2 separate regions of the Homo sapiens genome follow, and region 1 is linked to region 2. Evidence: fine-mapped expression QTL. A gene starts in region 2. The other region holds a variant in brackets. All regions are shown on one strand. Distances are from middle to middle. Region 1 has its middle 5.8 kb from the start of DERL3. Region 2 holds the start of MMP11 (matrix metallopeptidase 11).

Region 1 (4,380 bases), 72 kb before region 2:
CCTTCCAGAGTGGTGGCCCCAGTCCCTAAAGATTAGTTTTGTTTTCGTAGAGATGGAGTGTCACGCTGTTGCCCAGGCTGGCCTCGAACTCCCGGGCTCAAGCAATCCTCCTGCCTCCGCTGGGACTACAGCCACACGCCACTCCGCCAGGCTTTTTCGAAGTCAAAGACAGAGCTGTCTCAGGTTTTGTCTCTGTGAACTCATATCCCTGGCCCTGCCATATGGCTGACTCTGCCAAACAGATAATCTGCTTCTCCCCCTACACCGCCCACAGTGCTGAGCTTGAAAATAGCTGAGGCAGGGGAGGGGGAAGCCCCCACCAGATGCTCTGGAGCTCTGGGGTGCTTGGCCGGAGGTGGCTTTGACATTCTGGCAGCGGCCACAGCAGGAAGTGGGAATTCCTGGCAATTGCTCTGGGTCATGACAGTCAGGACACAGGCTCAGGCAGGTCCCGCAGCTGAGGGCTGAATGGAGACAGTTTCATCAGCCATGAAGGGTCAGAGACAGTAAAACGAGGCCCAGACAGCAGGGAGGCAGCTCAGGAGTGGAGTCTCATGTTGGAGACGCTCCCTGGGAGCCCAGAGGCTGCAAAAAGTTCTCACCTCCAAACCGGAGCTGGAAAAGGGTCTGGGGCTGCACAGCATTAGCTGGTTGGTGATGTCCCTCACTCCCCTGTGCCCCAGTGATGGGGTCAGGGATAGCTCACTTCCTCCGCATGGGTCCCTTCCATCACCCGTTATGGTGGCAAAGCCAGGACTGCTGATTTTGTGCCTCTTTAGCTGTGTGTCCTCAGGCAGTTTACTGAACCTCTCTGAGCCTATTTTCTCATCCGTAATAGTAACCTACTTCATCAGGTGGTGATGAGGGTTCGGTGAGTTTAATAAAAGCCATGGTGCAGTCTGGCTATAGATCACTGAGCAGCTATTATCTCCCGCACTTCACAGGTCCTTGCCTAGTCCATGAGCAGCACACGGGCCCATTCCTGCCTCCCCACTTTTGCTTAAGCCTTTGTCCCTGCCTAGCACATCCCCTCCTCCTCCTGTCCTCATCAGGAGCTCTCCTGCCCCACGGCTGCCCTGGACCACTCACCAGTGCATTTCCACTCCCTGCTTGGTATGGGATTCAGTGTCTCCTCCCCTGGCCAGAAGCTGAGCTCCTGCAGGAAAAAGGCACCCACAGCGACTCCCTCCCCAGCCCTGCAGGCCTCTCTGGCTGTTCCTGACCATAGGCCCATGAAGGCTCCTGGCTGAGAGGAGACAGCGAGGAACAGATCCGGCAGAGAGGACTGGCAGGGGCCCTCCAGCTTCCTCTGTTGGTGCATTCTTGCTCATAAGCATTCACTTATTCATAGCAGAGATGGGCCTTGGATGGGGAGGCCAGCTGTGTTTGTTACAGGAAGGGGCTTCCACCCAGAAATCTCTGATACCCCCATTATAGATCAGAGTACAACCTTGGAGCTGAAAGAGACTCTACACATGGACCCTTCTGACCCGCATCTCACAGAGAGGGACACAGAGCCAGAGAGGGAAGGGAGTGCTCAGGTCACAATGCCAGCCCCGAGGCTGCATTTCCAGCCCTGGAGTCCAGGTCTCTGTCTTCACAAGTTTCCCTGTTTTTCCCTGTTTACCAAGCCCCTGCCTGTGCCAGCTCCGCAGCAGAAACCAGGCCTAGAGGGGCCATTGTGTGGACAACTGCAGCCCTTCTGCATGAAGCAGGAATGACCAGGGCCACGGAAGGGAAGGAGCTGGGAGGACTGGGCTAGAGGCCAGGGAGGGCTTCCACCCCACAGCACCCCAAGCTCACCTGCCTGACTCAACGAGTGGTCTCCCTCCCTTACTGGCCATTCACCCATGTCTCCACCCAGTGGGGGCTCACTGTCCCCCAAGCTGGGTAGGCCAGGACCCCTCCTACCTTCACCCCCACTACCAAGCATTCACTAAGGCCTGTGGCTTCAGCCATCCTAACCCTTCCACTCCCTCGCTGTTAATGCAAGCCACTGCAGGCCACCGCTCTCCTCCCCGGCTCATCTGATTAGGACAGAGACCACGGCCGACACACCTCTGCCTGGCCTGGCCCCGCTTCTCCCTCCCGTCACAAGCAACTCTTCTTCCTTGCCTCCTTCACCTTCTCTCCTCTGCTCCCTTCCTCTCCCCCAGTTACCTCAGGGCCTTTGCACAGGCCCTTCCCCTATCCTGGCCTAGCTAGTGCAACCCATCCTCTGCCCCATTCTGCTTCCTCCCTCCCCATCCCACCCAGAGACCAGCTTATTCCTGGAAAGTCCAGATTCTGCTACCAGGTTCAGAGGGCCAGGCCCAGGCCGCTCCCTCTGCAGCCTGACACAACCCACCTGGATGGTTTGTTGTTCTTGCGCTCCGGCCACAAGCAGCTGCTGCTATGTGGGTTCCG[G/C]ATTCAGTGCTAAAAATAGCCTGTGGCCCAGACAGGAAGGGCCAAGGGGGACACAGCTGTTTCTGGGAGGGGCTAGCTGGAAGCCTACTCACAGCAATTGCAGGGGTCCCTGTGCTCAAAGGGGGTGGGCCCCGTGCTCAAAGAGGGGAGAGGTCCCCCAATGGACAAGTGCTCAGGGCCCAAAAGGCACTATGTGTCATCAAGAAGAAAATACAGCTGCACCAGCAGGTACACAAACGTTCAGTTTGTTTGATTCTTGTGGTTAGTTACAACAGGCATGGACTGCCTTTAGAATAAAATATATTTAAAAATTAAGTGCTCAGGACTCTAACAGAAGTAGGTGAGCTCTGGTCCCTTTGAAGGTGACCAGGGAGGGCTTCCTGGAGTAGGAGGCACTTTCACCCTCTGCTCTTCCTCTCTTATTTTTTTAATTTTATTTATTTTGCTTTTAAGAAACATATTTATTTTATTATTTTATTATTTTTGAGACAGAGTCTTGTTCTGTCGCCCAGGCTGGAGTGCAGTGGCACGATCTTGGCTCACCGCAACATCCGCCCCCGGGGTTCAGGTGATTCTCGTGCCTCAGCCTCCTGAGTAGCTGGGATTACAGGTGCATACCACCTTGCTTGGCTAATTTTTGTATCTTTAATAGAGACAGGGTTTCACCATGTTGGCCAGGCTGGTCTCCAACTCCTGACCTCAGGTGATCCACCGGCCTTGGCCTCCCAGGGTTCTGAGATTACAGGCATGAGCCAATGTGCCCAGCCAGGAAACATTTTTTAAAAAATATTTTTAAGAGTCGGGGTCTCACTCTGTCACCCAGGCTGGAGTGCAGTGGTGCAATCTCTGCTCACTGCAGCCTTGACCTCCCAGGCTCAAGCGATCCTCCAGCCTCAGCCCCCTGGCTCTCTCCCCCTTCCCACTTGGGGCTACAGGCATGCACCAGCACGTCTGGCTAATTTCTGTATTTTTTGTAGAGATGGGGTTTCTGTATGTTGCCCAGGCTGGTGTTGAACTCCTGAGCTCAGGCAATCCGCCTTCCTCAGCCTCCCAAAGTGCTAGGACTACAGGCGTGAGCCGCCACACCCAGCCTTACTCTTTTTTTTTTTTTTTTTTTTAACAGAATGAATAGTTCAGAGAGCTGGGACAATATTAGAGGAGAGAACCTGAGGCCTGAATAAGAGTTAGTGGTGGTGGTAAGGCATAGGAGAGAAGGGAAAGGACTAGAGAGTTCCATGGGAGCATCAAGTGTGACATAGGGGGCCGGGCGTGGTGGCTCACGCCTGTAATCCCAGCACTTTGGGAGTCCAAGGGAGGATTGCTTGAGGACAGGGGTTTGCGACCAGTCTAAGCAACACAGTGAGACGCCATCTCTACAAAAAAATTAAAAAATTAGCGGGGCATGGTGGCATATGCCTGTTGTCCCAGCTACTTGGGAGGTTGAGGTGGGAGGATCACTTGAGCCCAAGAGGTTGAGGCTGCAGTGAGCTGTGATCACGCCACTACTCTCCAGTCTGGGCAACAGAGCAAGACCCTGTCTCTAGGAAAAAAAAAAAAAAGTGCAACATGGGGCTGAGGGTATAGAGCTGACTCCAGGCTTGGGGGCTGAGGATGGCCCCTCCTAGTGTGTGAGGCCAGTGAGGGGGAAAGCTGGGTGGGGAGAGTATGCAGAGGGCGCTATCCTGCCTACAGACACTGAGAGGGCCTGGACAGGAGATCTAGGTGTCCTCTGGGAGTCAGCAGGAAGCGTCACAATGCCAGGGAGGTGGCATGGGGAGCAGAGCCCATTGTCACCTTGCCGAGGAACCACAGGTCTCCACCCACCCACCATCCTCAGCACAGGAGAAAGAAGGCTGGCCCAGCCGACAGGTCTGCCACCCTGATGTTAGGGTAAGGCACACCCTGCATCTCTAGGACCCTGGGAACTTGGGATGCCCAGGGCTTCCCTCTATAAAGAATTATCTGGAGGGGCTC
Region 2 (4,380 bases):
CTGGACCTAGACCTGGGGCTCATGCCTCCCACCTCCAGGGCTTCCCCCTGTCTCCCCAGCTCTTGGCTTTTCTCCAAAACCCACTTTCCCAAGAAGCATTTCTGCTTCCAGTGCATTCCCTCTGTCTTGGCCAGTAGCCTCCCTTGGCCTGCCCTGTGGTGGGTTCTTAGCTCACTCAGCCCCACCCTCTTCTGCCAGACACCAAACCTCAGCTGCAGACACATTCAAGGAATTTCTCAGCTGACCCAGTGTCCTGGCAGAGCTTAGAGACTCGGAGTCAACCCCGCCCTGGGGTCAACTTGCAATCCAGAAAATGGGAGGCACCAGATAGAGGGGAGATAAGGGAGGACCCCAGGGTGCCAGGAAACACTGCGAAAGGCTGGGCTCATTGTGCCCCTTTCTGGGCCTCAGTTTGCAGTTGGTCTAGTGGGTATAATTAATCATAGCTATGCCTTCTGATGTCGGTGGGAGGCAAGACTTCGAGGAGGGCACTTGTTAGGCTATGGAGGAAGACGGGAGCATCACCATGCAGGCTCAGAGAGGTCAAGCAACCTGCCCAACTCACACAGCCAGGTGGCAAGCAGGGATATCTTCTCCCTCAAGCTTCCACCTAATCTTCCTATTCTCACCCCTCTGCTGCTGGCTCCAGGAGGGACGGTAGCTTCGTCCCATCCATCGGACTGCAGGGCTTCCATCAACCCTGAAAGCTGGGAACTGGGCTGGATAAATATTTACAGAGCTCTCCCAGCCTTGCTGAAGGCAGCCGGGGGATAAACACATCAGAGGTGACCCCACATGCTCCCTGCGTGTTTGCAGAGTGACAGACCACAGTCCAGCTCAGACCCCACCCCAAGCTGGCCCCCAGCTCCAGCACTGACCATGCACAAGCGTCAAAGTGGCAGCTACAGGTGACAGTGTTTCTAGTGAGCCTGGCATCACCTCATTGCTCAACAGTGGACACAGCAGTAGGCACCATTGCCCCCTCCCACCTGCACTCCCATTAGAGATGGAGTGGGTGAGATTCTGAGGCATGGCAGGATTCACCCAGGGTCACATGGTTCAAACCCAGATCTCTCCAATTTCCAGACCTGTGGTTCAATGTCTACCCACAGTGATTCCTGACTCTGTCCCAAGTCCTAGGAACCAAGAGGGGCTGGGAAGGAGGCAAGACTCCAGACTGAGATGCCCCCCATTCACTCTACCCCACCCATCCCATCCCTTTCTGCTCCCATAGCCAGCACAGGACAAGGCTGCCCTGAGCAGAGCCAGAGTGGCTGGACAGAGGGTCCCAGCCTGGCCAGGCCTGCCTCCTCACCAGGCCAGTCCTGAGACTCCTGCCTGTCACACCCTCCTGCTCCCTTCCCTGCCCGAGCTGTCTGGATGCCTCCGCTGTGGAGTGGAGTGGCCCAGGCTCTGGCCCCAGGCCCTGTGACTGGTGCCTGGAAGCGCCCCAGGGAAGGGGCAGCTTTTGGGACACATGCAAGCTGTCACACACACTCCATGACAGTCCCTCCTCTCCTCACTCTGCTGTCCTCTCTTACCTGGGCTTTCTTCTCCTCTCCTGAGCACACATTTTCTCCCTTTCCTTTCTCTCCCCGCTTCTTTCTGACAGCCACCTCTCAGTCACACACACACTGCACTCATACTATTTCATACTCATGTTCTCCTGGCTCCAAGCCTCCCAAAACTGCTGCCGGCAGGTGCCCGCGGGGGACATCTCCAGGCTTAGACCCCATTTCCCGCAGCACAGCGCTGCCCTCCCTTCTCCCTTTATCCTTCATCCCACCGCACACCTGGAGGTGTACTAACTGCGGCCACACACCTGCAGGCTGACACCTGCCTGGGATCTGCTCGGCTTTGTCCCTGCGATGAATAGGGGGCCCTGTTACCACTCCCTCTGCTGCTTCCTTCAACGCACACTCCAGCACCCGCGGCTGGAGCGCGAGAGGCAGGTCCCCACGCTGGGAGCAAGCGTGAGTCCAGCGTGGAGTCCCGTCCCACCAGCCCGAACGATGCCGGCGCCGGCTCCCCTTCACACCCCCAGGGACTGCAAGCTCGCTGTCTATCACGCCTAGAGGGAACCAGAAAGCGTTTCGGGTACCGGGCGCTGGAGGCCACCCGGGGCGCCCCCTTCGGTCCGGATCCGCCGCTGGGCCCAGCCCGCGTGCCCGGCGCCCCCTCAGCGAGGAGCGGCCGGCGAGTGGCGGGCACTCACCGGCGGCAGAGCCCGGGCCAGCAGCGGCGGCGGCTGGAGCAGCAGCAGCAGCATCGGGGGCAGGAGGGCGCGCGCGGCCGCGCTGCGGAGCCAGGCGGCCGGAGCCATCCGCCCCGGGGCTGCTGGGCTTGCTGGGCCGCTCCGGGCCGCCGCCCCTTATAGCTTCCGCCCCACCCCCGGCCCGCCTCGGCCCCGCCCCCCGCCGCCTTTTGTTCTGAACTCTCCTAGCAGCCGCGGCCCGGGTGGGGGAGGTGAACGGGGAGGGTACGGCCCAGCGGGGTCGAGGGCCGGAGACAGGGTCCTGCCCCGGGGCTGGCAAAGTCCCTATCTGGTGCTGGGTGACCCTGGCCAACCCGTGCCGCTCTGGGTCTCAGTTTCTCCTCTGGGTGGTGGCCGTCCAAAGTCTTAGACTTGGCTAGAGTCTGAGAGGAGTCAGGTTTCATGGGTCCCATCCGTACCCCCACCTTTGGAAGGCGCATCCCACTGGGTCTCCTTGGTGGCCTGACCTCTGACCTCTGACAGGTGGTCCTACCCACAAGCAAGTTCCCCCACCCCTCAGAGCCTCAACGGATCCTTCTAGAAGATGACACAATAGCCCCTGTGAGGAAAGGGATATTATTTTATTTTTTATTATTATTATTTTTTGAGACACAGTCTCACTCTGTCTCCCAGGCAGGAGTGCAGTGGTGTGATCTCCACTCACTGCAACCTCCGCCTCCCAGGTTCAAACGATTCTGCTACCTCAGCCTCCCAAGTAGCTGGGACCACAGACGTGCGCCACCATGCCTGGCTAATTTTTGTATTTTTAGTAGAGATGGGGTTTCACCATGTTGGCCAGGCTGGTCTCGAACTCCTGACCTCAAGTGATCTGCCCACCTTGGCCTCCCAAAGTGCTGGGATTACATGGGGAAGCCATTGCACCTGGCCAGGAAAGGGATATTAAAATGTGTCCCAGGGGAAAGTGAGGCATATGGCAGGGACTGGCCAGTTCTTCAGCTTGGGATAGACCGAAGTTTACAGATAGGGAAACTGAGGCTCCAAGAGGGAGGGTCCAGGCTTTTCCACACCAGCAGACAAGTGGAGGGGTCAGGAGGTCCTCTAGCTGGTCAGCTGTGGGAAGGATGCTGTCAGAAGGCTGTGGGAGGTGTCTGAGTGGAGTACTGGGCCCCCAGGGTGTCCCCTCGTCAGTGCCCAACAAGCCCCTGGGGACCCCTCCAGGCTAGCCACCTCAGACTTGAAAGAAAGGAGGCGAGAGGCCGGGCGCAGTGGCTCATGCCTGTAATCCCAGCACTTTGGGAGGCCGAGGCAGGTGGATCACGAGGTCAGGAGTTGGAGAGCAGCCTGACCAACATGGTGAAACCCTGTCTCTACTAAAAATACAAAAATTAGCCAGGTGTGGTGGCACACACCTGTAAGCCCAGCTACTCAGGAGGCTGAAGCAGGAGAATCACTTGAACCCGGGAGGCGGAGGTTGCAGTGAGCCGAGATTGTTCCATTGCACTCCAGCCTGGGTGACAGAGCGAGACTCCATCTCAAAAAAAAGAAGGAAAGGAGGTGAGACTCAAAGGAGGGGTTGTGTCCACATTCTGGAAGGGATCCTTCAGTCTCATCCCTGATTTTCGGGGTTACCCAGTACTGCTGTACACCCCCTGAAATGATGAAGGGCCTCACCACCTCACCAGGCGACCTGTTCCATCATGGGTGGCCCTGCAGAGCCACGATCCAGGCAGTGGCTCGCATCCTGGCAGGCAGGGCTCTGAGCTGCTCAAAGGTGAGGCTGTGGTCAGGAAGCCTGGGCCAAGAAAGGGAAGCGGGTGGGGAAATGTTTCACAGCTTATTCAAGAAGACTCCACAGAGACTCCTAGAGGGCGAGGAGAAGTAAGACAGCAGTAATTTTTACAACCTACACTGTTCGTAATCTTTTCTTTTTTTTTTTTTTTTTTTTGAGACGGAGTCTCTCTCTGTCGCCCAGGCTGGAGTGCAGTGACGCGATCTCGGCTCACTGCAAGCTCCGCCTCCCAGGTTCATGCCATTCTCCTGCCTCAGTCTCCCGAGTAGCTGGGACTACAGGCGCCCGCCACCATGCCCAGCTAATTTTTTATATTTTTAGTAGAGATGGGGTTTCACCGTGTTGGCCAGGCTGGTCTTGAACTCCTGACCTCAGG

Evidence for each region. PIP is the estimated chance that this variant, and not a neighbour inherited with it, causes the effect.
Region 1: its variant is the best candidate, but not a certain one, in a credible set for the expression of MMP11 in whole blood (TOPMed, PIP 0.84).

Annotation. Positions count from the first base shown.
Region 1 is chr22:23,842,637-23,847,016 of GRCh38, reverse strand. No RefSeq gene overlaps it. Among named protein-coding and RNA genes, the nearest start is that of DERL3, 5.8 kb to the right of the region's middle. RefSeq lists enhancers at 2,142-2,635, 4,250-4,380. The variant G/C (reference allele first, on the strand shown) is at 2,407.
Region 2 is chr22:23,770,814-23,775,193 of GRCh38, reverse strand. MMP11 (matrix metallopeptidase 11) reads right to left here and starts at 2,345. Exons shown (of 8, transcript NM_005940.5): 1 at 2,216-2,345. The coding sequence starts at 2,323. It overlaps LOC107985577 (a long non-coding RNA gene), which reads right to left. Exons shown (of 3, transcript XR_007068022.1): 2 at 3,887-4,007; 3 at 2,817-3,325.